2 linked regions of the Homo sapiens genome follow. The protein of the gene in region 2 purifies or fractionates together with the protein of the main gene of each other region. This does not show direct contact. Each region holds a gene or a part of one and is shown on either strand. Other genes may lie near its edges. The genes, in order: STXBP5 and ABCA5.

What was found.
Region 1: the proteins of ABCA5 (region 2) and STXBP5 fractionate together in Homo sapiens (co-fractionation; one large-scale study listed by BioGRID). This does not show direct contact.

Annotation. Positions count from the first base shown.
Region 1 is NC_000006.12:147,207,368-147,211,200, reverse strand, and holds part of STXBP5 (syntaxin-binding protein 5), read right to left. Parts: intron 1-3,833. UniProt on the Homo sapiens protein: Plays a regulatory role in calcium-dependent exocytosis and neurotransmitter release. Inhibits membrane fusion between transport vesicles and the plasma membrane.
Region 2 is NC_000017.11:69,243,804-69,247,459, forward strand, and holds the end of ABCA5 (cholesterol transporter ABCA5), read right to left. Parts: 3' UTR 508-3,656; downstream 1-507. UniProt on the Homo sapiens protein: Cholesterol efflux transporter in macrophages that is responsible for APOAI/high-density lipoproteins (HDL) formation at the plasma membrane under high cholesterol levels and participates in reverse cholesterol transport.

The sequences.
Region 1 (3,833 bases), on a different chromosome or scaffold from region 2:
GTAGCTGGGATTACAGGCGTGCACCACCACGCCAGGCTAATTTTTGTGTTTTTAGTAGAGATGGGGTTCCACCACGTTGGTCAGGCTGTTCTCAAACTCCTGACCTCATGACCGCCTGCCTTGGCCTCCCAAAGTGCTGGGATTACAGGCGTGAGCCTCTGTGCCAGGCTGAACACAACCATTTTAAAAACAAACTCAAAGAAAAGAACAGTGCTTTTCAGTATCTTTTCCTCAAAGTTTGTATTAGCTACAAAAATAAATGAAATGAAGTCCTTCCTACACAGTTGCCACTCAGTATTCGCTGAGAGAAATGAAGGACCTGAAAATTAAAGCCACAGAAAAACTCTCATATTAATAATAATCATGTATTATAATAATAATGTAATAATCATGTATCCACCACAATATCCCTTCATGATCGTAAAAGCTACACACACACATTTTATTAGATTTAATCGTGACAATAACCTCACAAGCTAGGTAGGGTTATTATTCTTATTTAACTGGTGAAGAACTTGGGCTAAATGCAGTGGTTCTCAACCAGGGGCACCTGGAAGTGTGTTGGAGGGTCTGGGTTGCCACACTGACAGGGGAGGCAACATGGGCATTTAGTAGGTGGGAGACGGGGATATTAAATATCCTGCAATGTGCTGGACAAACCCACAGAATTATTCTGCCCAAAAAGCTACCACTTTGAGAAACACTGACAGAAAATAAATGGACAATGCCAAACAGCTACTAATGACCTTAAATATAAATTCAGTAACAAAATTCTGGAAATCACCAAGGACCAGCCAAAAAAAACCAAAACAAAACAGTGAAAGTATATCAAATTCTCACACTAAAATAAGAAGTCTAGGCTACTCTCCCAAAATGATAATACAATAAAAGTTAAAGATAACATAATTTCAAACTCAACATTTCTCTGCCACTTCTTTGCCAAGTTTTTCACTTCGCTTGTAATTGCCTCATTACTTTACTTGCAAAACCTTATCATCTTTAGTTACTCCCTAAGATTTTATACAAACAAGTCAAGCCCTTCTCCAATTCCCATTCTGCCACCCCTGTTTTGGATTCACTTTACTACCTATATGGATTAATAATTTTCTGTGAAGTTCACTTGGTCCATTCTTTTCACCTATACCACTACTCCACTAATCATGCTAAAAAATCATGCTTTCTTCCTGTCAGCATCTCCTATTACATAACTATGATTCCTAACTGAATATCATGCAGATACCTCAGGTTAAAATTGCAGACCCTCAACAGCCTCCTTATTTCTCCTGCTAACTCAATTATTCCAACTAGCCTCATTAGTATTCCTCCAAACTCGCATAATTCCCTTTTCCATGCTTTTGCCCATACTGTTTTCCTTGCCTAGAATAATTTTCCCACTCCTTCCTCCCTGTCATTCTGAATACTTATCTACCAATGTATAGAAATGTTCATCAAATGCAACAAATTTACATGTAACCTGACTTTGTGTAATGTCAGTAGAGCCCCAAATAATTCTCAAATTTCAACTGCTTATTTAGTTCCAGTCCTTTGGTTAGAACTGGAAACTTTTTGAAGGAAGGATCACATTTTCATTTCTTTTGTATTACTCCTCTAGAATACATAGCTACTTGAAATCATAAAATTCTTCCTTGAAGAAATCATTTAATACTGCACCTTCATTTTTATAGTAAGGAAAAAAAAAACTAATTCAAGGACATGTAATTATTTAGTGGAAAGCGAAGAACCAGAATTCAGGCCACAATTTATAATCTAATGTTGTCTGACACTCAAGTGCTTGTTAAATCAACTGTAAGGTAAAAAAATCACTTTGTAAGCCTGTCTCCAGCAACATTACTCTGCATTAAAAGACAATCCATGCCTCATCAAAACAGAGATTGTCTATTTCACTGTATTTTCCACCAGTCAAGAAGACAATGAATGAGGTTCTTCGATAATAATTTGACAATTCATTTTTAAACCTCAAATTTTTACACAAGTTCAGTAAACCTGAAATTCCATTTTTCTGCTCAGTCCTTGAAATATTCATATATATAATGACCTCATTGTGTTTAGAAAAAAAATTTACTTTAAAAATAAGATCAGGGTAACCCATGATTAAAGTATGAAGCAATTTGAAATTTTAGTAGTAAATCAGAAGTCTAGATAAAGACAGTAACATTATTAAAAATACCTTCATTCTTCAATCTCATATTCTCTCCAGAAGCCAAGAAGGTTTAGCATTCAGCATATTTATATCATATGTCATTTGCTATACATTAATGTAGTAAATACATTTAATTTATTTTGCCTCATAATTTGTTATGTATTATTAAAGGATTAAGATTTTTCACTAATCCTTGTCTACAAACATTAGCTATCAGATATATCTTTCTTCTTTGATTTTTTGGTTTTAACCCAGAGTAGATAAATCAATTTAGTAAAGTCTTCTAACATTTAGGAAGATATTCATCAGTCAAATTACATACACATTTGGAATTGTAATAGCCTAATCTTACTTCTGAAAACATCGCCTACTTTTCAATCTGCAAGGAAAATACTTTATCTAGAAGTCTATTTTCTGCTCTAATGATATCTTTTAGGATAACTGTGTTACAGACTACAAGAGTCTAATACAAGAAGAGAATAAAGGATCAAAAGAAACCAATTACAATAGGAAAATATACAAAAGATCCAAGTCAAAATATACACACTTGTAGTAAATCTGCACGTTAACCAAATGTGGAGATTCGGAATTTAGGTGTCCAGTTTCAAAAATAACAAAGAAAGAGACACTAACATATACCTGAAAGCACATATATGGAAAATGAGATAAAATAAAAAGGGCTTAGTCATTTTCTATAAATCAGAACCATAATAAATAAAGCTCATAAGCTCATCTGCTACTTAAACCCAACAGAAGGAATGACTAGGTGGTATTACTGGCAAGCAAGCCAATTTAGCACTCTGGAATGTCCATAGAAATCTCATAAAAAGGCAAAGTAGAAGGTAATTTAGTAAACAGTTTTCCATACTTCATTCTTAGTAAGGAGGTTCTAAAAAAAAACTTTAGAGTATAATTGCAAACTATAATTACAGGTTCACTTTTATTCACATAATATTTAACTATAGAAAGTACACCAAAAGTTATATACAAGTGACAATTTTGGCCACCTGATCCTTGATTTTAATTGGCAATTCACACTAGGCCTAACGCTTTACACCTTTTGTGCCAACTTGCTAATTACACAAATGCATTAGGGTAAAAGTGTTGTCTAAGAATCTGGTTTTATAAAATCAGCCTTGCTGGTGGTACTCACTTATAATTATACTAAATTATAAAAGGGCCAGATTGGATGTTACAAGGAAAAGAGGTTATTTACCAAAAGAATGTCGAGACCACACTGGGAAAACAATAAAACCTAAACTCATTTTACAGAAAAGCAAAATAAGGGAAAAATAGCTGATTTAATTCAACTTTACTTTCCTTCTTCTAGTCCAGTTATGAAATTATCTTGTTGGGAAAAAAAAGAAACTGCTTTCAGTTCCAAAGAATGCATCTAGATCCAACGCTGTACTAGTCTCGTCACTACAGAGTTTTGCTGAACACTCAGGGCCCACACTGACAAAATAACTTCATTCCCGTCTTCACACAACCCTAAACTAGATGGTCTTGATCACTGAGTTCAGGAATAAAAATATCTAACAATTGAAGCCAAAAAACATTCTGGTCATAACTATCTAGATATTTGGGCAAGAGCACTTCAGACACACCGTCTCAGAAATTAACAGATTCAGATCTAGCCTGGTCAGATTTTGTCGTTTATAAAGGTATGACT
Region 2 (3,656 bases):
GGGAGGATCACCTGAGCCTGGGAGCTTGAGGCTGCAGTGAGCCGGGATTGTGCCACTGTACTCCAGCCTAGGCAGCAAAGTGAGACCCTATCTCAAAAACGAAAGAAACACCAAATGATGCTTGAAATTCTTGAGAACTTGATTTTTTAATTTAAAACGGTAATTTAATTTGCAAGAGTTGTTTAGGCACTTGGGAAGAATCTGTTCATTAAGTTTAAAATATTGCCTAAGTGTTTGTATGAATCAATTCATTCAAAAATTCTAAGGAAAGTGATAAATATGTAAGTAGTGTTAAATATCTGAGAGTAACTGAACCTGTTATATGTGATAATGTGTAAGTTAAAGTGATTGCTTTCTATTTACAAAAAAATACATTCAAGACAAAAAGATCTATAAACATACCTAGTTTATGTTTAAAATCTGAATGTAAATTAAAACAAAGTAATTGTCAATGTTCCTTCTGCACTTGAAAACTAGCCTCAGATACTTAAAAAAAATTACTAACAATTTTAGTGCCAGGTTTTTGCATCATTTTTAATATGAGCTACTCATTATTCAATTATCAGCACTAAATAACAAAGAATTCACTTCAGTATACAAAATGACTTGTCTTAAATTTTCAACTCTTAAAGCTTATTATTAATATAATCATATTTATTTTTCTTAAAGAGCAGCATTGAGAATTGCTTACATATATTATAAATAAAAAATAATTAAACTTTTACCTGATAAGAATAGCTGATATAAAAATTATTCATCTGAGAATAAATTCTTTCATTTTAGGAAATAAGCTATTTCAGGAAAGAAAATAAAAAATCAATGTTAGCAAATTAAAAATACATTAAGGATAAACATTTCTATTTCTCAAAAATTAATGCCTATTTACATGTTACACAAAAATACAGTATGGTATTTTAACAAACTCAGGGCACAATTAGAATGAAGTTTTGAGTAACTAACAGAACAACAATAAAAACAATAATAACAACACTTATCCTAAGTAAAATTAATTGTGCTCCTATAAAACGTTGTTAGTACTACTAGCAAAGGATTTGTCATATTATAGTTAGTTATATAAAATAATAGCTAGTTATATAAGTTATATAAGTAATATATTATATATATTTTATGTAAGTTATATAAGTATCTATCTTACAGATCTCCACGATCTTACAGGGCCAAAACTGATAGTCATCCGAGTTCTCTCCAAAGAATCCATTTCTGGAAACATAATCACTTAAAATATTTGTTAAATTACATTACTCTAAAAATGTTTTAATGATTAAAACCAAAATACTGACCTAAGATAATTTGTGCAAATTTAAAAGAAAAAAATTATTTTAAAGAAAACCCACTGTCTTTACTGAAAACAAACTAGAAAAAAAAATTAAGAGCCCACAAAAGTAAGATGTAAAGTACACTCATCATGTTTTTTCTTGCCTTATTAGTCAGTAAACACTCACTCAGTAAAGCTCAGCTTTTACTTTCCTTTGAAAATTTGACCATGAATGGGAAATATAAGGTTGGTGATGTTGCTTTTGCCTAATATGTATATTTATTTATTTATCTGTACTGACATAGAAAAAAGTTTTGAGATCAGTAATTTAAGACATTTTAAAATTAGTATGTTCATAAACATGAACTGTACACTGTAAATAAATATATTTCACTTTTTGCCTCCTTTGCTTTCCAGCTCACTTACCCTTGTTTTCCTAAGAATTAAGTTATATTTCTCCTGAGTCAGATTTTGTTACTGTGAAAAAGGGAACATAATTTAATTTAACAACCAAAATATATTCTGAGTATATAAAAACTAAAAAAAAATTTGAATGTCTTTTAAAATTGTTTACAAGAGCATGTATTCATATACATTAAAAGCAAAGTAACTAAATGAACAAAATAAATAACATGATTGTGACTACTCAACTTTCACTTTGCAGGAAAAAAAATTTACTTTGCACCAATTACACATTCACAAATGTAAAGTGAAAGTTACCAAATCTACGTGCAAAAGCAGGTAATTTTCTTCATTAGTCATGCTCTATCTTCAGATGACATAACTTTCTTAGGATGGTCAGGTTCTAAAAAAAACTATGCTTTTTCGTGACTGCCTTAGTAAACTATAGATATAATTTTGTTGCTTTTACTAAACTTAAGTATTCAAGGTTACACATAATTACAAAAGCACATCCCAAAAAAGAGGTCCCTGGGTATTTATGTGAACATTATATATACTTTAGGAAAGTGTATAGCAACTGCCCCCAGCAATGGGGGAAAATATCAGCCACGTACTTTGTACCGAGAAAGAACACTTTTAAATCCACTGCTAGAGCCTAAAATCACAGATGTCTTATTACACAATAAAGCTAAAAGTTCATTAAATTTTGCCTACATTAAAGAATGAATAATGCCACTGAAAGGTTTTGCTTATTTAAAGTAATTCAGTACCAAATCCTTCTGTCATTGCTGTTGTTGTTGTCTAATACAATAATCACACTCTCAATATATTTGTTTTATGAAGTTAATACTTTCATTTGGTTGAAATGTAATGTCAACTAGCATTATTTACACTATTTTATACCTTGAGCCAATACATGGGTTGTACAAGGAAGTATTTCTAAGAAAATATTAGCCATGCCTTTAACTCTATCAAAAATGAAATTCTGGTTCTTATTAAAAAGAAATAGGCGCACTGCACTTACAATTCTTAATTTAACCCTTGAAAGAGTTTATTCATATCCTACCATGTTCCAAAGTCAATGAGGTAAGTTACTAAATAAATCTACACACTGATCTACTTACAATTTTATAGAAGAGATTCACTAAAGTTTACCAATAAAAACAAATACCCAATAAAATATTTTATTCAAGAACAAAATTAAATGTGCCCTTTGCAAGGAAGATGACAAAAAATTTATATGTTCCAAGAGTGATGAAGGAAAAGGTATGGCTTAATTCTACCACCTCCATAGATAACTGTCATTCTAGCCACAGAGTCAAAGAATCAGACTATTACGTAAGATTCTACACACAGTCTTCCTTTAATTATAATAACTAAAACCTTCTGAATTTTACTTTAAATTAAAGAAATGTAATTTCACATACCTAATTACCTAAGCCTAAAATCATGTACTAGAACAAGGGCTCATTTCACTTATTATGATCAATGACTGCCACCTAGTGGATATAACTTTCCTCAAATCTCTATATTGAGATTTCCTAGTGCTTACACTTCAGCTTTTACGGATGACAACTTCCATTCAAAGTGGCTTTTTTAGAAATTAAAAAGGAGAAGCAAGAAACTTTCACATTGCTTTATGTATCTTTTCTATGCATTAGTTATGAATTAGTTTTTTATTTAGATTGGAACATTACGTACTTATTTAAGAAGATGGCATAAACTTAAAGATAACTTAAAAATAAAACTATTCTATTACAATTCCTTTAAATCACAAATTCAGAAGCACTGTTTCTGAATGGTGAAAAAGATGACATACAAACTATATAGTTCAATATACTTCAATACAAACATGCAGCTTCACTTAATTATACATACGTTTTATTTAAAGAAAAGCAAAACACACAACCACAGCATTTCAATTAAGGAGCTTAGAAAAATTTCAAGTGCGTTCTTGGTTCTCCAGTTACCATTCCAA